3 separate regions of the Homo sapiens genome follow, and all the other regions are linked to region 2. The links come from fine-mapping of genetic effects on gene expression. A gene starts in region 2. Each other region holds a variant in brackets. All regions are shown on one strand. Distances are from middle to middle. Region 1 has its middle 20 kb from the start of CKAP4. Region 2 holds the start of CKAP4 (cytoskeleton associated protein 4). Region 3 holds the start of TCP11L2 (t-complex 11 like 2).

Evidence for each region.
Region 1: its variant is fine-mapped to the expression of CKAP4 in whole blood (TOPMed, PIP above 0.99).
Region 3: its variant is fine-mapped to the expression of CKAP4 in whole blood (TOPMed, PIP above 0.99).

Annotation. Positions count from the first base shown.
Region 1 is chr12:106,224,318-106,232,497 of GRCh38, forward strand. No RefSeq gene overlaps it. Among named protein-coding and RNA genes, the nearest start is that of CKAP4, 20 kb to the right of the region's middle. RefSeq lists a silencer at 1-69. The variant G/A (reference allele first, on the strand shown) is at 3,438.
Region 2 is chr12:106,243,873-106,252,052 of GRCh38, forward strand. CKAP4 (cytoskeleton associated protein 4) reads right to left here and starts at 4,148. Exons shown (of 2, transcript NM_006825.4): 1 at 3,497-4,148. The coding sequence starts at 3,979. LOC124903008 (a long non-coding RNA gene) reads left to right here and starts at 4,400. Exons shown (of 2, transcript XR_007063443.1): 1 at 4,400-4,887; 2 at 5,799-8,180. RefSeq lists silencers at 3,294-3,383, 4,044-4,353, 4,384-4,723.
Region 3 is chr12:106,298,114-106,306,293 of GRCh38, forward strand. It overlaps TCP11L2 (t-complex 11 like 2), which reads left to right and starts at 4,620. Exons shown (of 10, transcript NM_152772.3): 1 at 4,620-4,828. RefSeq lists a silencer at 4,258-4,377 and enhancers at 4,398-5,283, 4,458-4,537, 4,548-4,687. The variant G/C (reference allele first, on the strand shown) is at 4,687.

The DNA of each region.
Region 1 (8,180 bases), 20 kb before region 2:
CAATTGCCTCTGAGTGGCACCTGATTTTCAGGACTGTCCTGTGGCTCTGACATCTCCTCAGCATAGACTTTCTCTGCAGAGGGGCTCTAGGGGTTGAGTGTGTGGGCTGCCTCTCTGCAGATTTTACTCCCTCTCTCCTGTGCCCCTCCTTACCTCAGCAAGCCCCGGTTCCTTCCCGTGAAGGCTAGGAGGAAAGTAGCCATCTGCAGAAGAATCTGGGGAGGGACTGCCATGGTGGGCTTTAGTTCTTGGCTAGAAGAGCCTCTGTTCTCGGCAGGAGAAGCCAAATTGCACAAGAAAACCCAAAGATCTTCTTTGATGTACAAAGCCATGAAGTCACAGCCCTTAAAAGAGGTCGACAAAGAGCCCAAAGTTTCCATCAGGTTGACAATGTCCATGTAATTCATCTCACTCACTGCAAGGATCAAAACACCAAATGCTTCCAGGAGCCAGACAGGAGGCCTAAATGAATGGAGAAGCAGACACAAGTGAGTGGTGGGAAATGTGAGAATCTAGAGGCCACAGGCCCACCTGAAGACCTCACAATCAAACACAGGCCCACCTGAAGGCACTCACAATCAAACACAGGCCCACCTGAAGGCACTCACAATCAAACACAGGCCCACCTGAAGGCACTCACAATCAAACACAGGCCCACCTGAAGGCACTCACAATCAAACACAGGCCCACTTGAAGGCACTCACAATCAAACACAGGCCCACCTGAAGGCACTCATAATCAAAATTCCAAACTCAACGGGGCACAGTGGCTCATGCCTGTAATCCCAACACTTCAGCAGGCCGAGGTGCAAGGATTACTTGATCTGAGGAGTTTGATACCAGCCTAGGCAACATAGTGAGACCCCTGTCTCTATGAAAAGATCAAAACACGAGCCAGGTGTAGCGGTGTGCACCTGTGGTTCCAGCTACAAGAGAGGATTAAGCGGGAGGATCGCTTGAGCCCGGAGGGTCAAGGCTGCAAGTGAGCTATGATCATGCCACTGCACTCCAGCCTGGGCAATGGAGTAAGACCCTGTCAAAAAAAAAATTCTAAACTCACATTTTGCAGGCCAACAATAGAAGGGCTCATTTCACAAGCCTGGCATTTCAAATTCCCTGCATTTAGTCAATTTCTAAGTACTATTTATTGAGCACTTCACTGTCATGGCCACTGTTCTAAGCACCTCAGATGGAGTAAGCCTCACAACAACCCTATGAAGTAGGCACTATCATTAGCATCATTTGCATTTATAGGTGGGGAGACTGAGGCACGGAGCACTTAAGTAACTGTCCCGATGTCAGACAGATAGAATATGCCATGGCTGGGAACTCAAATAGTAAGGCTCAAAAACTCAACTTATCCAATTTCTTATCTTTTTTTTTTTTTTTTTTTTTGAGACAGGGTCTCACTTGGGCTAGAGGGCAGTGCTGCCGTCATGGGTCACTGCAGCCTTGACTTCCCAGGCTCAAGCAATCCTCCCACCTCAGCCTCCTGAATAGCTGGGTCTACAGACATGCATCACCACACCCGGCTAATTTTTATATTTTTTGTAGACATGGGGTTTTCCGCCATGTTGCCCAGGCTGGTCTCGAACTCCTGGGCTCAAGCAATCTGCCTGCCTTGTCCTCCCAAAGTGCTGGGATTACAGGCACAAGCCACTGCACCTGGCCAGAACCCAGTGTCTTAACCACCAGTACTATACACACAGTACAAGTACATAGTTGTATCCTGGGACATTATGGGAAGCTGATTTTATTACTATGGGAAAGGGAGTATGGTTTAACAGACAAAAAGCAGGCCTTATTAGAGACAAACAGAGTCCGAGTCCTGCTGCTACCACAGACTGCGTGCTCCCAGAGCAAATTAATGACCATTTCTTAGTGTCTGATCAGTAAATCAGAGACAACCACTTTTACTCCCTGGGATAATCGTCAGGGTAAGCGAGATGATAAATGTGTTCCACCTAAAGCATGACATCAAACACAAAACACAATTATGGGTGACTATTACTTAAGTGAAGGACTAAGCATCCAACATTTGACTTGCCTTATTTAAAGGGCGCCACTTGCACTTTTTTTTTTTTTTGTCCTTTTTGAAACAGAGTCTCACTCTGTTGCCCAGGCCGGAGTGCAGTGCTGTGATCTCAGCTCACAGCAACCTCCGCCTCCCAGGTTCAAGCGATTCTCCTGCCTCAGCCTCCCGAGTAGCTGGGATGACAGGCACGTGCCACCACGCCCAGCTAATTTTTTGTGTTTTTAGTAGAGATGGGGTTTCACCGTGTTAGCCAGGATGGTCTCGATCTCCGGACCTCGTGATCCGCCCACCTTGACCTCCCAAAGTGCTAGGATTACAGGCGTGAGCCACTGCGCACTTCTTAACTAGCTTGACATAGGAACGATAAAGGTCTTTCGGTATCTAAACTTCTACTAACAAAAGATTCATATTAAACAAAACCCTTTATTACCTAAGTTTTCAAAAGGGGCTAATTAGTAGGATAGTATACACATTACAAAAGCATTCATGTCACAGAGAAATACACACATAGGTCTTTTAAATAGTGGATTTCTCTGGTATTTTTAATGGTACAATTGGATTTTATCCCCTTTCTGGAACAAGAGCGAAAAATGAAGAAATCATTCCTGTGATCCCTGACTCTGACACTAGATGGCAATAAATTCTCACTTCAATTATGTTCTCTGGGTTCCTACTGCCACAGTCAGCTGATTTGGGGCTATTCCCCAGCTGAAAGTTCAGGGGCTTGAGCCGCTCTGGATTTTTTACTGGTGCATCCCGGCATCTTCTGAAAGTGAATAGTCTTCACATGAGGTTATCCAAGATGTCAGCCCGGCCCGGCCAACATTCCCCATTTCACCCCAATAAATGAGAAAACATTAATTGTGACCCAGTGTGTGCCGGCCCCCATGGGAGCTACAAACAGACCCTTGGTTAAGACAGAAGCCACCCTGGCCCCTAGAGATCTGCTCACTGTCTAGTCCTTTTTCCCTTAGGCCTCCTCCTGCCCACCCGAGGCTCCAAAAGACTCTTGTGCAATGGTTAAAGTCAAGGAAAGTTGGATCTGGAAGAGAACATGAAGATTACTTTATCTCCCCTCACTTTTCAGATGGGAAAACAGATGGAGGCCCAGAGAAGGAAAGTGAATTATCCTAGGCAGCACAGCCCGGCAGGCCAGCATTCGGACCAGAGTCCTGATTCCAGGTGACTTCCCCCATCCCTGCTGTTCTTGTCACACCATGTGAGAACTCCGTCCTGGAGTGCAAACCAAGATCATACCCGTGAATGGAAGAAAACAAAAAGACCTAGCCTTCTGAGTTTCCATGAAGGACTCTGTGGGACAGGATGTGTCCTCACACCAGCAGCCACACCCAGTTGGTAATGCCTCTTTCAACACAACATCACCAGCTATTTGAACACAGGCC[G/A]GGATTTCCCCACAGCCCCATTACCCAACAGGTATTGCTCCTGAGTGTTCGCTGCCACACGCGGGGGCTTGCACAGCAAGGCCAGGCTGCCACACCCCTTCCTGCCAAGAGTGGGTTTTGCTGCCTGCAGCAACTCAACTGCCCTGATTCTTCGCTTACTTCTGAGCATTTTGCATCTGTGCTTAGGCCTGGAGCCAAAACAAATTGTGGGGGATAAGAGAAGAAATTAGGCCCTGTCTTCTTAGCCAGTTAGTGTATGAGCTTGGGTGAACAACTTCTCTGAGACTCAGCCTCCCCATCTGTAAAACAACAGAATTAGATTAGAGCCTTCTCTCAGCCTTAGCTTTCTAAGGCCTGTCACATGGCTACTTAGCTATCATTACTATGAAAAGTAATCATGCGTAAATGCAGCACTTCACGTAATATATGTAGGCGTCATTTGTTTTCTGACCTGTACTAGTTTAACTATTAAAAGTATAAGCTTTTCTCTATGTGTTTCTTCCCCTTTAAAAAAAAAAAGTTTAATTACAAAATATTTCTGACCTATGAAAAGATATCAGGAATATGGGGAGGCCAGGCATGGTGGCTGACACCTGTAATCCCAGCACTTTGGGAGGCCAAGGCAGGTGATCACTTAAGTCCAGGAATTCAAGAACAGAGTGAGCAACAAGGCAAGAACTTGTCTCTACAAAAACACAAAAATTAGCCGGGTGTGGTGGTGCACGCCTGTTAGTCCCGGCTACTACTTGGGAGGCTGCGGTGGGAGAATCACTTGAGCTGGGGAGGTAGAGGCTACAGTGAGCCAAGATCGGCCACCGCACTGCAGCCTGGACGTATATATATCACATATATATATACCATCTCCCCATATTTTTTTATTTTTCTGAACAGAGCAAGACACTGTTCAAAAAAATTGTAAAAATGGGGAGATGGATATATATGTGATACACAAACATAGCAAAGTGTTCATTATAGTATCTAAGTAGTAGATATATGAGTGTCCGCTGGACAATTCTTTCAACTTTGCTGTTTGAATTTTCATAATAAAATATTGAAAGGAGAAAAAATGTATTATGAGTGATATCATGAATACTTAGGTAGCCTCCACTCAGCCTAAGAAATCAAATGATCTGAATTTGGATATTCGGTCTCCTAGTCATTTCTTGGTACTTTCACTACAATGTATAGTATTATTTTACACGGTAAAATGTCTTAGTTTTAAGAATTAAGGAATTTCTGAAGTGTCACACTGTGTATTTTGTCTGCAGCTTATTTTTTCACTCAGCATTTTAGTTGTGAGATTCATCCCCACGATATATGAGATTAGGATTTCTTCCTTTTTGTTGTCGTTTTGAGGTCTATTGTATGAACAAGTGATAGTGGATTTACTGATCTTGTAGCTACTTTCTCGGTGTTTCCACTTTTCTTTCTTCGTAAGCGGCGCTGCTGTGCCCATTCTCTCCACGGCTGCATGTCGCCTTGTGCGCAGGAAAGGGGACACAGTGGTGTTCAGGGGCTCTGTGGAGACACACATGGCCTCTAGCACAAGTGACCTGGGTGTTCAAACTATGTCCTCAGGAACCTGTGTTTTGCCGACTCTTGGTTCTGTTTTCTTCTATGCTGGCCTCATTCTCAGTGGACTCTGCACATGTGGTGGCCTTTAGCAGCCCTGGGCATTTATCCAGCTTGGCAGTCCCGGTGGGCAGAAAGCATCCCTTTCCAGAAAGTTCCAGCAGTAGTCAATGGACTGGATGGCGACCTGTATTCCTCCTGCACAAGTCAAACCAGATTTCTGATTGGCCAAACCTGGGTCATGCACTCAGCCCAGTCAGTCTCATCAAAGCCAAATGGACTGAGAGTGGGGAAGGGGTGATTCCCTAACAGAAAACAGAGAAGTGGTCACCAAATGAAGGAGGACTGGATGCTGGGCAGGCAACAACACATGTCCAGGACCCAGCAGTCCTCATGTGGTCCCTTGACCGCTGCACAGGTCACCCTGCATGTGATTATGGTGCCATTTACATGTCTGTGTCCCCTGTTTGGCTGGGAGCCTCTCAAAGAGGAAGACTTCATCTTTCATCTCATCTCCGCTGAGCAAATGCAGCTCAGCACCCAGTTTATAATAAATGACAGTAGGTGGAATCAATCCCTTGACCAAACACATCCTGAAGACGGGGAAGGGCAATTCAACCCTCTGCCTCTGAGGTTTTAGGTCCTCCCTCTGTGAACCCAGTCAGAGGGGTATGACGAAGAAAACGTCCACTACACCTCACCCTCTCTTTTTCTCTCTGAGTTACTGACCATCAGGACAAATGCAGTGTCCAGTTCAGAAGTCAGTATGTTCTCAAACAGCTGCCCTTTATTGAACACCTACTATGTCTCACACTTTTTTTTAATATATGGCTGGGCAAGATTCATCCAGATAGGAATGTTTCCAGCCTTCTGTGAATATGCTGAAAACAACTGTACACTTTAATAGGGTGAACTTTATGGTATGTGAATTTTATCTCAGTAAAGCTGTCATTTTTTAAAAGAAATACCAAGTCTTATATGGTATGATTTCATCTCTACAAAATTCAAAAATGGGCAAAATATTCTATGGTGATAGCAGAATAGTGGTTAGGTTAGAGGGTATTGACTGAGGAGCACGGGGAGCCCCTGGTGTGCTGGAAAAGTTGCATATCTTGATCTGGTAGTGAGTACATGGAGATATCGTGTGCAGAAATTCATTCAGCCATATATTTCAGATGTGTGTGCCTTAAAGCACCAAAGTTGCACCTCAACAAAAAGTAATCCCAAACAGTGATGTCTTTTTAAGTGAAGAAAAGAAACCAGTTCTAGAGCAGTACAAAATTTTAATGGTTTACCATTAAAATGTAATGGTTTGCCATTACTTTTAATGGCAAAAAACACGATTACTTTTGAACCAACCTAATAACTCAAGCTATTGGGTTCTAAACCTGGCTACCCCACTTGCTAGCTATGACTAGGAAGTACTTTGTCCAAGTTACTGAATCGCTCTGTACCTCAGTTTCCCCATCAGTAAAATGGAGAGGCCAATAGTACCTACCCTTAGGACTATTATAATGATTGAATGAGATAATCCTCGTAAAACCTTTAGAGCAGTGTCTGGCACATAGTAAATGCTCAATAAATTTTAGTTATTTCTGTTATTATTGATGTGGGCCAAGCACAATGATCTCTGTGGATGCAGAGATGAAAGACAGAGCCTTATTCTCATGTGGAACACACCAGAAGCAAGCGGTCATGATACAGACAGAGGAGCACTTTGAAGACAAGAAGCCTGGAGTGTGGGCTCTCGTGGGAGGAGCTCCCAAATTCAGCCTGTGGTTTGGGTTGAAGGATCCAGGGAACGTGCAAAGGCACCAAGAGTGACAGAACCAGGGGCCACATGAGGGGTAGTTATGCTAATCAGGGCGGCTACAAACAGAGTTCACAGAAGAGGAGGCTGGAGGGCAGGAAGACAGAGCAATCGGAAAGCTCCTTCTTGGCCACGACCCAGAGCCAGGCTGCTCCTGAGGCCAAGGGGAGAGCCTAGGGATTTCGCAGGGAGGGGACACAGGCAGATTTACTTTTGAGAAAGAGAACGATGGTCACCCATGGAGGATTGATTCCCTGAATGGGAGCCAGGCTAGAGACAGGGAGGCCAGTTAGGAGGCTGTACCTGTCCCTCAAGCATATACTGCAGTGTGTATAATACATTGTCCTGTATGTCTCCTCCCAGCTGCATCATGAGCACCATGAAGGCAGGAACCATATCTATAAAGTAATCTCCTTAGTCTGGCAAAGAGTGTGCGCTCTCTGAATATTGTTGAATGGATACTGAGTGCATGGACCACGTTTCTGATCTCAGTTGACCAGCAGAGAGCATCGTGGGGAGCGGCTGCTGCTGGAACCCAAAAGGCTGGGAGGAGGGGACAGAGGTGGATGTGTCAAGGCCTCAACCCTAGGAGAAGTGGAGGGAGGGGAAAGGGGAGAAACAGGGAGACAACGGGTGACTCCTGAGCTTCTAGCTTAAGCAGTGAAGGGGCCAGCTGTGCCATTTACTTCGAGGGGAAATGACTTCAGTTTGGATCCGAGGGAGATTTCCGAGGGTGTTAGGGGGCAGCAAGGTGTCCAGATATTATTGGAAAAACAGATTAGTAGCTCAGAGGTATGGTCTCAGCTAGGCATAGGGATTTAGGAATTATTATTATCTAGGTGGCAAATTACATGAATGCATATACAAGAAAAAGTCTAGAAAATGACTGTGTCGTTCTGGCACCTATGTTGAAATAAAAAATGATTTAATGAATTCATTCATGCCCAGCCTTGTTATGAAAAAAATTGAGATGGCACTCATAAATATACTTTTTATATTTCTTTTTGGGCTATAGCTTCCGGCTCCTTCATCTTTTTCCTCTAGGTAGAAATAAATACACCTGCCACCATAGAATTTTAGTCTTACTCTCTAATTCTGCCCTAGTGGTTCTCAAAAGTGTAATCCCCTCACCAGCAGCATCAGAATTATCTGGAGCTTGTTAAAGATGCAAATTCTTGGGTCCCTCCCCAGACATCCTGACTTGGAAATTCTGGGACCTGCAATCAGTGTTTTTGTGTGGGTGTGTGTGTGCGGTTTTTTGTTTTTTTTGTTTTTTGTTTTTTGTTTTTTTTTGGAGACGGAATCTTACTCTGTCGCCCAGGCTGGAGGGCAAGTGGTGTGATCTTGGCTCACTGCAACCT
Region 2 (8,180 bases):
CCTGCCTCAGAGGGTGGCTGGGAGAACAGAAATCATGGCTATAAAGCATTTAATAGCATGGCTGACCCATAGTGAACAGTAATTATGAATACTGTAAGTATACTTCCCTGCTATGAACCAAACTCCACCCCCCAACAAGTAACCAAGAGTTATAAAAGGGTTCAAACTTAGGCTGTCAGAGAACCAAACACAACTGGTTCCTCAATGCAAAATAATTTATTTACTGGCCACCCCAAAGATACAGACAGAGTGGCCACATTCTATGGCAAATCTAACACTGTTCTGGCCATGTTCTGAGTCTCAAGTCAATGGAACATTTATTGGGCACCTACTATGTACTAGGCTAAATAGTGGAGTGGTTAATAGTGTTCCAGGAGTTAGACAACAGTTTGGATCCTAGCCCAGCCACTAACTAGCTATATCACCGCTCAGTTACTTAGCCTCTCACTTTTCTCATCTGTCAAAGAGGGCTGATAATAGTACTTACCTCTTGGGGTTGTTGTGAGAGTCAGCAGATGATGCATTTTCAAATGCTTTGCATAGTGCCTGGCACGTAATAAGTGCACCATAAATATGACACATTAAATTATAGTTTGATTACACTACTAAATTAAAAGAAAAGTGGTCAGCCAGGCGCAGTGGCTCACATCTGTAATCCCAGCACTTTGAGAGGCCAAGGCAGGAGGACTGCTTGAGCCCAGGAGTTTGAGACCAGCCTGAGCAACACAGCAAGACCCTGTCTCTACCAAAAATTTTAAAAATAAATAAATAGCTGGACGTGCTTGTGCATGCCTGTGGTCCCAGCTACTTGTGAGGCTGAGGCAAGAGGAACACTTGAGGCCAGGAGTTCAAGGCTGCAGTGAGCTATGATCACACCACTACGCTCCAGCCTGGTGACAGAGTGAGACCCTGTCTCTACGAAATATAAAATATGAAATAAAAAACAGAGAAGTCACTATTTCAATTATTTTAGAGCCATGAGGATTCTTAAAAGTCTGGATGGAGCCCTCTTCTCATTGTGTGGGTGGGAAAACTGAGCCCCAAAGAAGAAAGTGATCTATATACATAGCTGTGATGGAGAAGGGGTGAGAAGCAAAAAGAAGGGACTAAGTGAGGGGCAGGGAGAAGCACAGAGAATTAACCTGGATTCAAGACCTTCCCTATTTTGGCCTCAACTTCCAACCCACCCTCTCTCACAATTTCCTACATGTGACTCTGCCATTGGCAGGGTAGCCACCTCCTCTCTCTCAAACATGCTCAAAATAGTGCCCCTGCCACGGTGTTCATCACAGTCCTTCTCTCAACATTTATCGATCACCAGCTAGATGGCTGGCACTACCCTGGCCACCGGGATACAGGCGAAATTCCACACCCTCCCTCTTCTGAACTTTCACAGGAGTTACCCTCAACTGACACCTCCTTATGCGCTGCACAAGTGATTCGTGTCTTTTGCTCCTTCATACCCTCCCACAAAGCCTACACAGAGCCATGCAACTGTCAGACTTTAATAAATATTATGATTGACTAGTAAGTAGGAGGATGAAAGAGAAGAAACAGAGGCTAGTCATTATACTCCAGCAGTATGTCTATTTTTTAAGAATGGTTTGACATTCAGGATAGGCAAAGCAGCACTGCCTACTTAATTCCCTTAGAAAAGTCACCTCCCTTGGCCTGCAGCGTTTAGCAGGCTGACTCATTCCAGTTGCTCTGCCAGTCTTTTTTTTTTTTTTTTTTTTTTTTGAGACGGAGTCTCACTCTGTTGCCCCGGCTGGGGTGCACTGGCAGGATTTCCGCTCACTGCAACCTCCACCTCCCGGGTTCAAGCAATTCTCCTGCCTCAACCTCCTGAGTAGCTGGGACTACAGGCATGTGCCACCACACCCCGCTAATTTTTGTATTTTTAGTAGACACAGGGTTTCACCATGTTGGCCAGGCTGCTCTCAAACTTCTGACCTCAGGTGATCCGCCCGCCTCGGCCTCCTACAGTGCCGGGATTACAGGCGTGAGCCACCACGCCCGGCCGTGCTCTGCCAGTCTTAAGAGGAAATTCCTGGTCCTGCACACTCAACAAAAGCAGAGAGCAACTTGGCAGGACAGACAGCATGCTGGGAAAAGGAGGCAGTGGCTCCGGGATCAGAAGTGGCGGGATTTTTTGTTTCAGTCTTGCAACCAACTTTCATTGAGCAATGACATAGTGGAGGGCGAATAAGATCAAAGGGGCTGTACTTGGTATGGAAAAACCACAGAAGGGTGGAAGCTAAGCACCTTCGCCTTGAGAGTTGGGTCCATCCATACCTGAAATGGACCCCTGTGGACCCTTGACGAACAGGGCAGTGGCCTAGACATTCTCGTGTGTCTGTCACTCACCAGCTGGGGACTTTGTCAACTCATTCCTCTGTCTAAACCTCAATGTTCTGCTCTGGGAAATGAAATCAAAACTGTTAGTCCTCCCTCCCAGGGTAGTTATAAGAATTAGATAATATGTGAGTGAGTAAGCATTCTAAACACCATATAAATGTGGCTAGAAGTATTATTCACCAGTATGATCTAGTATTTTTGGCCCTCCTCTTCCCCTAAAGCGGAAGTAGGGCCGGGCGCAGTGGCTCACGCCTGTAATCCCAGCACTTTGGGAGGCCGAGGCAGGCGGATCACTTGAGGTCAGAAGTTCGAGACCAGCCTGGCCAATACGGTGAAACTTTGTCTCTACTACTAATAAAAAATTAGCTGGGTATGGTGGCACATGTCTGTAATCCCAGCTACTCAGGAGGCTGAGGCAGGAGAATCGCTGGAACCTGGGAGGCAGAGGTTGCAGTGAGCTGAGATCGTACCACTGCACTCCAGCCTGGGCGACAGAGCCAGACTCCCTCTCAAAAGAAAACCCAAAAAAGCTGAAGTAGGACTACGTCAAAGGCCCACCTGGGCAGGCTGGTCCAATACAGGACAAGGGACCTAAAGATAGATGGTATTTCATTTGGACCTGCAAATGAGTAAGAATGCCAGCTCCGGGTCTATTAAAAACCCCGCTCGGATGTCTCCCACAGGCAGAGCTGAGGTGGGGCCTTGCCTGAGGCTTCCAGGGATGCGCTGGCTTCCCTTCCAACCTCCTTTTCAGACAGCTCTGCCCATTCAGCGGTTCCTAATGCAGAAAGAATGGGCTCCCCGGAGCCTGCCGGCTTCCTTACAGGTCACCGCTAATGCCCTGTGACAGGCCCTTGGCCCACCCTGCCAGGCGGGCCTGGGCATCCTCGCGGCGGCCCATCCCTCGGGGCCGATTCCTCCGCAGCCATTAACAAAGGGGGTCTGGGGACTGCCTCGGAACTAGGGGGCCGCGTGGAGTGGGATGTCTAGGCCAGGGCCCGCCAAGGAGGAGCGGCCGGCTCCCGCCTCCGGGCCTGGGCAGGCAGCGCTAGGGGCCGGTCGGGAAGCACGAAGGAGCCCGGCCGTGGGTCCGGAGGCCGCAGTCGATGGGGACAGTTGCGGGGCCGGGGGTACCCACCTTCTGCTCGACGCCCTGCAAGCCCTGGCCCAGCTCCTCCCTCTGCCGGGAGAAGTCCTGGTGGCTGCGCCGGACCTGCTGGACCTCCTCCAGGACGTGGTGGACGCACCAGCCCGAGAAAGCGGCCGCCGCCACCAGGGCGAGGTAGAAGAGAAAGTTGAGCGCCCTGCCGAGCCTGCGCGAGCAGGACGCCGAGGACGAGGCGGCGGCGGCGGCAGCGGCGGCGGAGGCGGAGGAGGAGGAGGAGGACTTGCCGCCGCCGCCGCCGCCGCCGCGGTGGCCGCCCTTGCCGTGCGCCTGGTTCTGCGGGTGCTGCTGCGGGTGCTGCTGCGGGTGCGGCGCGGGCGGCGGCGGCGGCTGCTGCGGCGCCGGCGGCGGCTTCTTCGCCACGTCATCCGCGCCGCCCGACGGGTGGGCACCCTTCTCCGAGGGGCTCGCGGCGCCGTGGCCGCCCTTGGAGCCCCTTTGTTTGGCCGAGGGCATGGCGGGCGCGGCGGCGGCTCGGGCCGCGGGCTGGGAGGCGAGCGAGCGCGGCGCGCGGCCCGGGAAACTTGCAGGGGCTCCCCCGGGACTGGGCGAGCGGCACGCGGGCGCTGCTGGCGTCGGAGCGGCGAGAGGACGCGCGGCCGGGGAAGGAGGCCGGGCCGAGGAGGCGGGAGGAGGGGGCCTGCCTCCGCCGCCGCGGCGCCGACCCCGCCTCCCGGTAAGGGAGGCCGAGCGAGCCGAGCCGGGAGAGCTTGCCACGCACGCCGGCCCGGCGGCCCCTCCTCCCCGCCGCCACGACCCCGGAGAGGGAGGGCCGGGCGGGGTCTACGGGGGCCGGGAAGCCGGCGCGGGGGTGGCTGGGCGCGGGGCGGGGTCCCGGCGGGGTCTGCGGAGGCCGGGGTGGGCACCGAGGTGGCCGCGAGGGGAGGGGAGAAGAGCGGAGCGGAGGGGAGGGGACGCGGCCGAGGTGGGGCTGGCGGCCCGGCGGGTTCCACGCAGGCTGGGGGCGGAGGGCCAGATCGACCCCAGCCGGGGCGGCCGAGCAGGGTCCACGGGGGTCGGGGATGGGCGGCCAGGCGGGGTCGGAGGGACGAAAGCCGGGGTGAACCTGCGCCGCGGGCCAAGCGCGACCCCCTCCCTTCCCGACCTGTGCGGAGAGGAGAGAAATGAAGGGGGGCGCCCAAGGAGCCCTGGCCCCGGGAGTGGGAGTCAGCGGGTGGGAACAGATCGCCCTTCCTTTCCGCTGGGAATTGGGGGACTCCCCCTGCTTTCACTCTCCCAGCCCGCCATGGGGTTGGGCCTTGTCCTTTGCCTTGGGTTTGAAGGCGGAGACAAAAAAGGCTGTCCAAAATCCAGCCAGCTTGGGAGGCATGGTTGATGCGAGTTAGCAAAGATTCTCGACTGTGGTAAGTCTGTTCAAGGGGACGCATTCACCAAGTGTCCCCGTTAGCCAAGTTAGCCTGCTGTGGCCAGCTCTTTACTTTTTCCCCCCGAAGCCCCTTCAGCTCTGTTTTCTCTTTCGGGGTCATGAAGTTTGTCCACGGCCCCTACTCCTGACAGCCTCTGGGATGGGTGCTGCGGAGGCAGCAGCAGCCACACAGAAAGAGGCAGATCAGCGTTGTCACCCCTACTTTTGTAAAAGGAAATCTGGTATTGCCAGGCTGTGTGGTTAGCGACTCACATATGTTCTCGAAATCTCACAAAAGCCCTGTGAGGTAGAAATTATTTTACCCATTTTATAGGAAGGAAATTGAGACTGAGCGAGCCGGCTTCGGATTGGCTCAAGGTCACATATAGTCATCATTCGAACCTCACTCAGTCTGCTTCTTTCTGAAGTCTGTGCAGCTTAATCACTTCAGAATGGGAAGGAAACGGGGGCCCAGGGAAGTTAAGCAACTTGCCCACTCACTCAGTCTAATTGGTGCCGGGGCAGGGACAGAACTCACTCAATTCCACTGCTTTCCCCAGTTTCTGGTGAGTGATGTGTGCCTGGCACTGTGTGCACCTGGCACTGTGTGTAGTAGGAATGCTGTTTCTTCTGTCTGTAACCTCCTCCCAGTTCTGTAAACAAAGACAAAACCATGCCCTGCCCTTAAAGCCTATAGGGTTCAAATGCCACCTCTTTGATGATGCTTTCCCTATAACACCATTTGATACCTCTCATGGGACTTAGCAAGTAATTGCAACGAGAGGCATATATGTTAGTTCAATATAGCAAACCTTTGTTGAGGGCCCACTGTGTGCCAGGTATGTCTCCCCTCCCTGAGGACTGGAAGCAACCATAGTTTATATTTCTCCTTCTTTCTCGCTTTATAAGGTGTTGCTAAAAGCCTCCAGTGAATGAATGAACACTTGTGTGCCTGCCCTCAAGGAGCCTGCACTACACTTGGAGATATATACAGAAACCTGTTGAGGGCTAACTTAGGTAAATTGGGAACATAAATGTAAAGAGATTTGGAAAGCAAACCATTGGCCTGTACATGGGCAGGCTTTGGGGGCAGAAAGACCTTGAGCAGTGCCTTGAAGAATGATTTGCATATGAGGAGAGCAGGGAGGATATTTCTGTGGCGGAAATGGGGTGAGCCCAGGACACCTGTTGGCCATGAGGGTGTGTTCTACATGTAGAGAAGAAAGAGATGAACTGGGTGGAGCGGGTCCAGATTGCAGAAGGCTATAGAAGCCAAGCTGGCAGATAGAAGAATCGCTATTAGTGTGGGAGGACAGAGTAAATTATAGCAGGTTCTGGACTAGAAATACAACCATCTGCCCCAGACAGAGAGGAACACCCTACTTCAGCTAAATACCAGGAGCTATTGTAGGAGCCTCTAGGTTCAACAGGGCACAGGTCTCTGACCTGTGGCGCGGGGAGACAGCAGAAGAAATCAGAAGACACTCATCACAGGAACCTTGTTTAAAAACTATTCAGCTGAGTTCGGGTTGTGTTGTTAAAATCTCTAGCGCGCAAAAAGAGGTTATCCCCCTTCAAGCAGTTCTCCATGTTAGGGGCAGAGGCAGTGATAACTGGTAAAGCAGCTTGCTGCCAAGATCTGGCCTTGAAAGCAAGAGCCCTACTCCTTTAGTGCTACCAAAGTGTGTGACCTTGAGAAGTATCCCTAAACTCCTCTAGATTTCAGGGTCACCCTTTCTGTAAGGTGCATCTTTAAGGACCTGTCTTATTATTAATCCGTTTCTTAGAGAAATAGTCATCTGATCCTTATCAAAAATAATTAAATGATATTTAAATTTTTAAAAATTGATCCAGGCCAAGTACAGTGCCTCACACCTGTAATCCCAACGCTATGGGAGGCCAAGGCAGGAAGATCACTTGAGGCCAGGAGTTCAAGACCAGCCTAGATAACAGCAAGACCCTGACTCCACCAAAAAAAATTTAGCTGGATGTGGTGGCACTCAGGAGGCTGAGACAGGAGGATCGCTTGAGCCTGGGAGTTCAAGGTTATAGTGAGCTATGATGGCACCACTGTACTCCAGCCTGGGCAACAGAGCAAGACCCTGTCTCAGGAAAAAAAAAAAAGCAGACTGTAGGCCAGATATGAGAATGGACGGTTTCTCAATTTTTACCTCTACTGAGCACTGAATGAATGAATAGAGAGTAGGACGATGGGACTGTTAATATTTTCAGCATTTCCCTCTCATTCTTTTCCTCTGGGAGATAGTACATACAATGGTTAAGACACAGGCTATAGAATAGACTGACTTGGGTTCAAATTCAGCTCCATGACTGACTTTGGAGTGTGACCTCTCTGAACCTCAGTATCTTCAGCTATAAGACAGGAGTAATTGCTACCTCACTAGGCCAGGTGTGGTGGCTCACACCTATAATCCCAGTACTTGGGGAGGCCGAGGCAGATGGACTGCTTGAGCCCAAGAGTTCAAAACAAGCCTGGGCAACAAGGCAAAACCCTGTCCCTACAAAAAATACAAAAAAAAATTATCCAGGCATGGTGGAGTGTGACTGTAGTCCCAGCTACTTGGGGAGCTGAGGTGAGAGGATCACTTGGGCCTGGAAAGTCAAGGCTGCAGTGAGCCCTGTTCACCATTGCACTCCACCCAAAAAAAAAGAACAACCTTGCTGTTATGCGGATTAGACAAGAGACACCATATGATACTGGGCATATGGCAATGCTCAGTGAATATTGGACAGCTAATACAATTTGCAGAGTCACTGAGGAAAAGTATAGCTTCAGAGAGCTTCTGTGTCCAGATTTCAACGATTTTCTTTCATCATTATTTCGTGGGGCTCCCAGGACCATATGTGGCTCACAAACCACAGGCTAGGATGTGTTTAACGTTAAAAGCAAGCAGTGTGTTTCTCTGAAGTGTGGCTCCACCATGGTGTTCGGTTACACCCAGAGGAGGAGGCTGGTGGGCAGTCATAGAAGTGCATCTTCCAGAGCAGGAAGGGATCAACAGCTCTTCCTGGAGACTTCCATTCTCCTACCCCAGTTTCTGAGCACAGCATGAATCTAGAGGAGTTTCTCTTCTGCTTTTCCTCCTAGTTTTGTTTCCTCTATCCCTTTTCCTTGCTAAAGTGTGTTGGATGGTCAGGAATGTGGGCGGAGAAGAGGGGGAGCTGGAGACATCTCATCCTTTCATCCAGCTTGTGTAAAAATGCCTCAGAACTCCCTCATACCACATGCACCATAAATTATAAGGTCAAGCTTTGTAAGCCTGCAGCCCT
Region 3 (8,180 bases), 54 kb after region 2:
ACTAATTCAGTTCAGTGGAGTCAAAAGAAAACTGGTTTTGGTGCTTTGGAAAATTGTTCAAGCATCAATTAATAGTCAAAACTGGTCAATTATCTAAATCTACCTTATCTTCCAAATCACAGGATATAGAACAAAAAAAAATTGCCTAAAAGGTGTGGTTAATTTTTTTTAATAGACCTTATTTTTAGAGCTCACAGTAAAATTGAGTAGGAGGTATGCAGTTAATTTTTGAACATTCAGGGCCTAATTCTCTAGTTGGTGTATTAGCCAAATTCATTTTCTTCTTTTTGCTTTCTATTGTATTTTCCCCCTCACTGATTTTTGGCCCTTTCTGTAGCACCTGAAGATGGACAGGGGAGAGAAAAGAAGTGGGATTCCTTTGAAAAACATTTTTTTTAATTTAATTTTTAGTTTAAAATTTTTTTTGAGACAAAGTCTCGCTCTGTTGCCCAGGCTGGAGTGCAGTGGTGAAATCTCAGCTCACTGCAACCTCCGCCCCCCAGGTTCAAGCAATTCTCCTGCCTCAGCCTCCCAAGTAGCTGGGATTACAGGTGTGTGCCACCACGCCCAACTAATTTTTTGTATTTTTAGTAGAGATGAGGTTTTGCCATGTTGGTCAGGCTGGTCTCAAACTCCTGACCTCAAGTTATCCACCTGCCTCGGCCTCCCAAACTGCTGGGATTATAGGTGTGAACCACCATGCCCGGCCATTTTTTTTTGTGAGACCAGGTTTCACTCTTGTTGCCCAGGCCGGAGTGCAATGGTGCAATCCTGGCTCACTGCAACCTCTGCCTCCTGGGTTCAAGTGATTCTCCTGCCTCAGCCTCCCAAGTATTTGGGATTAGAGGTATGCACACCATGCCTGGCTAATTTTTTGTATTTAGTAGAGACAGGGTTTCACTATGTTGGTCAGGCTGGTCTCGAACTCATGACTTCAGGTGATCCACCCACCTCAGCCTCCCAAAGTGCTGAGATTACAGGCCTGAGCCACCATGCCCAGCCCATTTTTTTGCTTTTTGTTTTTGTTTTTTTCAATTACAATGGAGTCACATCTTACAGGAGGGGTTAGGCTCTTAAGGAAGACCATGAGGTCAAAGTGCAGTGAAAATTACTCTTGAAAATTTTTTAATGAGCCATAAGACCTGGGATACACCAAGTTTTTGTCGTTTTTTGTTTGTTTGGGGCTATTTCTTTTCTTCCAGCATTGAAACAGACATAAGTTTCTTCAAGTGAGCACTGGTTGAAATAATTGATTGGCACTTAGGGGCAGGAAGATAAGCACCTTTAACCACTAGACTCATATTCTGTGTGGGGAGATCAGGACCAGTTACATAATTTGCCAGGTCCAGTGCAAAATGAAAATGCAAGGCCCCCTTTCAAAAAGCACAGTATTAAGAATCTCAACACAACAGCAGCAATGTATTAAACCAAGCACAGGGCTCTTCCAAGGGTGGGGCCTTGTGCAACTGCCCAGACTGCACGAACATGAAGCCAGCCGTGGGAAAGAAGCTTGGAACATAATGAGAAGCTCAGAAACTCAGATAAACACAGTAAGAGAAGCCTCACAACTCCCATAGAGAGAAATAGGGGACAAGATCACTGGAAGTATTTAAATTATTCTCTTGTGTTCCTCATATTCTGTCCTAGATGAGTCCCGTATAGCTAAATTTGCATTACATTAAATCAGTACAATATGCAACTCCACTAGAAAAGTTATAAGGCTGAGAGGTTGCAAATCCAACTGTAATTACATTTTTAGATTTTTGTCAATGATTTATTATAATTTAAAACTCAGATTTCAGATGTGTAAAAAGAAAATGAGTATTTCTATTTCTTCATCGAACAAAAATTTTGATCTGCCCTTAGTCTTTTGCCAAGAGTGATAGACCACATTTAGTCTACCGTGTAATTTACAGGGAGAAAAAAAAACTGTATTACTGTGAGTTCTCTAAGTGGTTCAAAAAGGTAAGTTAGAAAAACTAGGTGTAATAATATGTCTTCTTCAAATAAAATGCTAATTATTTTACTTCTAAAGAGGTTGCCTTTTCAGATTTTGTTGTTTTTTTTTTTTCCTCAGAAAGCCATAAACATAACCTGAGCAGGGAAGATTTTGTGTTATGACTGTCTGAGCCCTCTGAGCAACAATGTGATACAAGGCTCATTTTTGAGGGAACTGCCTTATATTTTACAGCACTCCATTTTTTCAAAGTGTTGTTTTTGTTTTGTTTTGTTTTGAGATGGAGTCTCGCTCTGTCGCCCAGGCCGGAGTAAAGTGGCGTGATCTCGGCTCACTGCAACCTCCACCTCCCAGGTTCAAGCGATTCTCCTGCCTCAGCTTCCAGAGTAGCTGGGATTACAGGTGCGTGCCACCACGCCCAGCTAATTTTTTTGTATTTTTAGTAGAGACGGGGTTTCACCGTGTTAGCCAGGATGGTCTCGATCTCCTGACCTTGTGATCCACCTGCCTCGGCCTCCCAAAGTGCTTGGATTACAGGCATGAGCCACCGTGCCTGGCCCAAAGTGCTTTTATACACAAGTCAGGCCAAGGGCAGTTGGTCAGGTAATTCACAGAAGGGTTTTCAGATAGCAAGTTATTTAACATTAAAGTAACAGAAGATAGTATTTCCAGCATCTTTTCTTATCTCAGCTTGGTTCTCTGATGTTACAGTTGAACTTGCTTTGACAAAAGCTGCTTTCCTGGTGGCTTTGAGAGCTACATATCTGAACTTTAAAAGAAGTGTCATGCCTAGGATCAGGCAGCTGGTCACTCCAGTATAAAGGACAACTACCCTGACTCATGGTCACCTGCTCCAACTTATGTCATAGCTCAAAACAATACTTAAATCCTTACAAAGCTAACAAAGGAAGTAATGTTGCCATGTGTCATTGTCACAGAATTACCAGAAGTTTGGGGGATTTGGGTGTTCATCTTTCTATTGTGGAGTTTTTAGGGTGGTGATGGCAGTTGTGTGGTGGTTGTCATTTGGCAGGAATTGAAATTGGAGGCTTCTGTCATTCTGATTACTTATCCAACGAATGACACAAATAAGAGCATGTTTGTAGGGAAGAACTCAGGTGGGGACAGCACCTTCTATTTAATCTCTTAACCTGTATTATTAGGTTGTATATTTTAGGAGAAGAGAGGAAAGTGGCAAAAGGAGGCACAGATACAAATTTATACAGATCACCAGCTAAGTTTGGCCACAGTGGTTTGCCAAAGAATTTCAATAACTAATACTTAGAGTGCTTACTGTGCACCCTGCTAAGCACTTCACATGCTTTATTTCACTTTATCCTCAAAATAACCCAAGGAAATAGCTATCATTGTTATCCCCAGAGACCAAGATCTCATGGATAGTGAATGTCAGAGCCAGGACTGGAACCATAGAGGAGTCTGTGTTGTAACCACTGAACAACTGACTTTCTACCCTGCTTTAAAATGTTGCCTGTTGTTTGTTGTTGTTGTTTTTGAACGGTGGTGGCCAATCTGCCTCCACAATCCAGACATAATTTCGGCACTAAACAGAAATACTTTAGTCTATACAAACTTCATGTAAGTAGTTCCTGCATGAAACTATTTCCCAAGTAATACAGCACCGATTTACACCTGGCAGAAGGCATAGTTTTGATGTGAACAGTTGGGGGAAGCTTGTTTCTCTACACCCTCAAGCACGCCCACAGCAGGAGCTGAGCAGCAGGCCAGACGGCACAGAGCCCTCCTGGGACTGGTTATTTACATTAACCAAGGTGGAAACTTCTCCCGGAGATAGGTGCTGCCAAGAACCCTAGAGGAAGTAAGACGCTTTATCTTTTGCACGCACGCCAAGTCTTCAGAGGGCCTGGATGGGTGTGACTCCAAGGAGCTAATCGTCCCGTGCAGGTGCAAATCTAGACCCGTGTTTATGTGGAGGTGTAGACGCAACTGGAGATGACCCGGTTAGTGGCTGACGTGCGTGGGAAAGCCCACCAGCAGCGTTGTTGGTTGGGTTGTCTCTGTAAGTGTGGACAGTGTGTTGGTGGGCACCCAGTTCCGATTGCCCCGTCTAGACAGGGGTGTGCGGGCACTCAATGTTCCACGCGCGGCCGGGAGCTCGCAGTGTGGTCCACGCCAGTGCGCCTGGAAGCCCAGGGGATCTGTCCGGCACTCCACTGGAGGCTTGGCCCGCGGCTTCGCCCACCTCCCCAGAGCCCCGCTCAGCCCCCGCTCCCCCCGCTCAGCCCCCGCTCAGCCCCCGCTCAGCCCCCGCTCAGCCCCCGCTCAGCCCCCGCTCAGCCCCCGCTCAGCCCCCGCTCAGCCCCCGCTCCCCCACTCGGCCCCGCCCCCAGTGCCCTGGCAGGCCCCGCCCCCAACGCCGGGCGCTCCCGTCGGCTCGGCGGCCTCAGTTCCGTAAACACTTCTCACCCCGCCCCCGGCAGCCCGGACCGCACCACTCGCCGCGCGGGGGAACCGTGCCCTCTCGCATCCGAAACACCCTCCCATCCGAGCTGTTCTCGGCCTCTCTGGTTCAAACTGACGAAGACTGTTTCTCTAATAGGTTCAGTCTGTGAGCGCTCGGCTTTCGGAGACTGAAGGGCCCTGGATCCCCTTGCCCCGTCGCGCCGTCGTCCCCCCGCTATCCGGTTTTGTGATGGCCGCGCCGTGGCTGCCTCCCTAGAGTCCCTCAGGGCCCTTTAAATACCGCGTTG[G/C]GGGGGACACTGGGGCTGGGGGGGTTTGTTGGGCTGGTGAGTTTTCGAGGTGACTGTGCTGTGCTCGGTGAGGGGACGCCCAGAGAGCCCTGACCCGGGGTCACTCCGTCGCCGTTCTCCTCTTGTCTACGTGCTGGACCCGGTGCGTATCCATCACGGGGGAGGCGTTGCCGGCTCGGAGGTGACCGGCCAGGTCCAACGGAGGGGACACCGCTGCAGCCCGAAGGCTCCCCTGCCCTATCTCGGAACTCCATCCTGGGAAGGCGGGGTCAGGGGCCATCAAGCTCGGCTCCTAGTTCATGTCTTCCCACTCCGCGTCCCCTTGTTTGACCTCGAACTGCCGTCCCGCGTGGGAGCGGGGAGCGGGGCACCGAGTGGCCGCCCCGCGTGTCGGGGTGGACACGGACTTCGGGCCTCGGAGGCCGCTTCGCCGCTGTTTAAATCCTGCTGGACAGGTACCAGCGGCATCCCGCCATCAGGGGCCCAGGGCACCCCCTTCCCCCACACTCCTCGGCCGGGCTGGAGTAGGGAACTGAGCCAGGGTAGAGGCAGGGCGGGCCCGGCAGCGTGTGTTTGGGATTTGTTGCCGTGGTTTCCCCGGCACTCAGCTCTGCCTCCGCCGTCCCCTCCCCCAAGGGTTTGTTTTGACAGGAAACCTGGTGCTGCTGGAGGGGAGGGGCGGCCAGAGGACGTGGGTGAGGTCGTGCAGACTGCTGCTGCGTCCCCTTGCCGGGACCTTTGGTTAAGGGGAAGAGGTGGAGAAAAGCCGATTGGGCCTGGGCTCGAACGCTGAACCCTCAGGTGTTGCTTGTGCTTCCCAAAGCTGCTACTGTAGGTGGCACCACTGGGGGTAATAGCAATGATTTGAGGTGGCATATGGATGAACATAGTTACTTGTTTTCGTTACTATTAAGAAAATCTGTTCCATTAAGTAAGCAGTTTCACAATGATAGAGTTTCCTTTTAAAATAAATATATTTAAATGCAAAAATCTAGTCAAGATAGAGACGCGGTTACTAAATTATAGTAAAGGTAAGGAGGGAGACGTAGAAATAGTCATGAAGAGTGGCACTCAAACGACTTAAGTTTGGGAAATCTTAGATGGTTGTCCTGCTACCTTAACTGTGAAGAAACTGGACAAGTTGTCCTTGTCCCCAGTGGGTGTCTCAGCACCCATGGTCACCAGCCCAGTCAGGGACTTTGCTCTTCTTACCTGCCAACGGATAATGAGTTAATCTCAGTGGTTCCCACTTGAGGAGGCTCCCTGCCGTGGTCCTTTTCCTCTCTTCTCTAGGGATTTCATGCATCACCCTGACAGCCAGTGGAAGTTGCCTGATTTGAAGAGGCCCAGGGCCGAAGATACCCAGTCATGTGTGGAAGCAGCTTCAATGCCATTTTGTGAGAGGTTGAGGGCCCCAGAGGGGGAAGCACAGGTATTAAAACAAAACAGACCAGCAAGTGTGGGAGGAGTGCTTTCAAATGTGAAAAGTGCCAGGAATCCTTCTCCCTGATGCTGTAATGCCACGTGTAACGTGAACATCTGCTTTGTGGACAGTGACTGGCTTGTTGGCTTTTATCTAGCTCTTTGTTGGTTCTAACTTGATGAAGACCAGTATTGTCTAGATGAATGGTATGGGCCCCTATCCCTCTGCTCTATGGTTTTTGCTTTGCTGTGGATGAATAACTTTAGTGCTGCTATTTAAGACTGATTCTAAAGCAGCATTTTGCAGAAGATGGAAATTTTTCACATCATCTGCAATTTTTTTCTTTAGAGCCCAGACTTAGTCCTCTGACTCCCTTCCCTTTACTACACATATGTGAAGGCTTGTCCTTGCAGCTGACCTCGATCTAGTGTTGAAGGATGGTACACACTAGAAGTTTCTTGAAATTTCTTTTTTGCGTGAGCTAACCTTAACTGGATGGGTTCAATTCCTCAAGGCCCTGCTGGGTAATCTGAATATTTCACTCCAAAATGTTTATGACTGTAAGCAGTTAACCTTTTTGCTAATACGTGGGGTCTAACTAGGGATTTTGCGGTGCATAAAGAATGGCTCCCTCCTAGAGGATTTTCTGTCACTGTAGCGGGGTGGTGAAGAATTGTTTTGGGTGACGTACTCCTTCAGTGATGCCCTTCACAGAATAGCACTTGAGCAGCCATACCAGGATAAGATCAGCTTGCTACCACATGTGCAAGTGTCCACAGGGTGATGGGTAGATGGATTTGGCAGAGTGGGAGTGGAAAGAATGAGCAGCACACCAAATTTTCTCCAGCCAAACTGGAGTGGTAGAGAGCATGGGTTTTAGGGATCCGCTTCCTGGATTTGAGTTGTGCCTCTACACTGCTGTGAACCCTTGGGCAAGTAACGCAACCTCTCTGGGCCTCAGGATCTTATTATAAAATGGGGATAATACTGATACATTAGCTAACAAGGTTATAATAAGGATTCAAGGAGATAAAATATATAAAGAACTTATCATAGAACAGTTATTGAGTGCTTATTACTACCTCAATAATAAGCACTCAATTACTGTTAGCTGTAATTGTTGTTATTTGCTACACGTGAGTTTCTTTAACCTCCTGGAACTGTGGGTCTTTGCTAGTTTGAATTTTTGGTGCCTTGCAAATGCACTGAAGTAGGCACTGGGAATTGGAGAGGAGAGTCATCGCTTCCACCAGCAGCTTAAAATCTAGTGGGAGACAGATATGCACACAAGTGTAGTACTGTAAGTGACTGCGTAATGGGAATATGAGTAATGTGAGTGAGGCAGAAAAGAAGGAAAACTCAAGGTGTCTTATGAATAGGAGTGTGGCGTAATTAGTTCATGCAGCTGTACTCACTGAGCTCCTGCTCTAGCCCTAGCGGTGTTCTAAGCTCTAGCTGGCTCATTAGATGCAGTGAGTGTAGCAATCAGGGAAGGTTACCTCGTAGTTGGTGACATTAAATTTCAAATCTGAATGACAATAGGGAGCCAACCACAAGGAGATCAGGGAGAGGAACATTTCAGGGGCAGAGAACAGCAGGTATGAGTGCCCCGAAATAGGAAGTTTGGCATGTCTGAGGAACGCAAAGAAGATCATGAAGGGTTAGTGGGAGAACACTGCAGAATAAGGTGGGCAGAGTTAAGATCACAGAGGGTTGTAAACCATGGCCCAGTGACTTAGGAAAAGGGAACCCACCTAGGGATGAACTCTTAAAAAGGATTATCTATTTTGCCTTTTCTGGAGGGCTCTGGCCTATTTCCTGTTTTATTCTTTAGGCACTGTTCAAGAAGGACATCAGGACAAGTTTGACTGTCTAGAAGAGTTCTTGTAATAGAGTGGTATTTAAGCTATCACAGCAGTGGGCACAATCAGAATTTCAAAACTGCAAGAGGTTGGACTGTTCTGAATTTGAATCTTGAAGTTTCAGTTCAGCCTGTCATCTTCTCTTTTAACCTTCTATTTGGAAATACTTTCAAACTTACAGATAAAGTCGTGAGAATAGTATAAGGAAT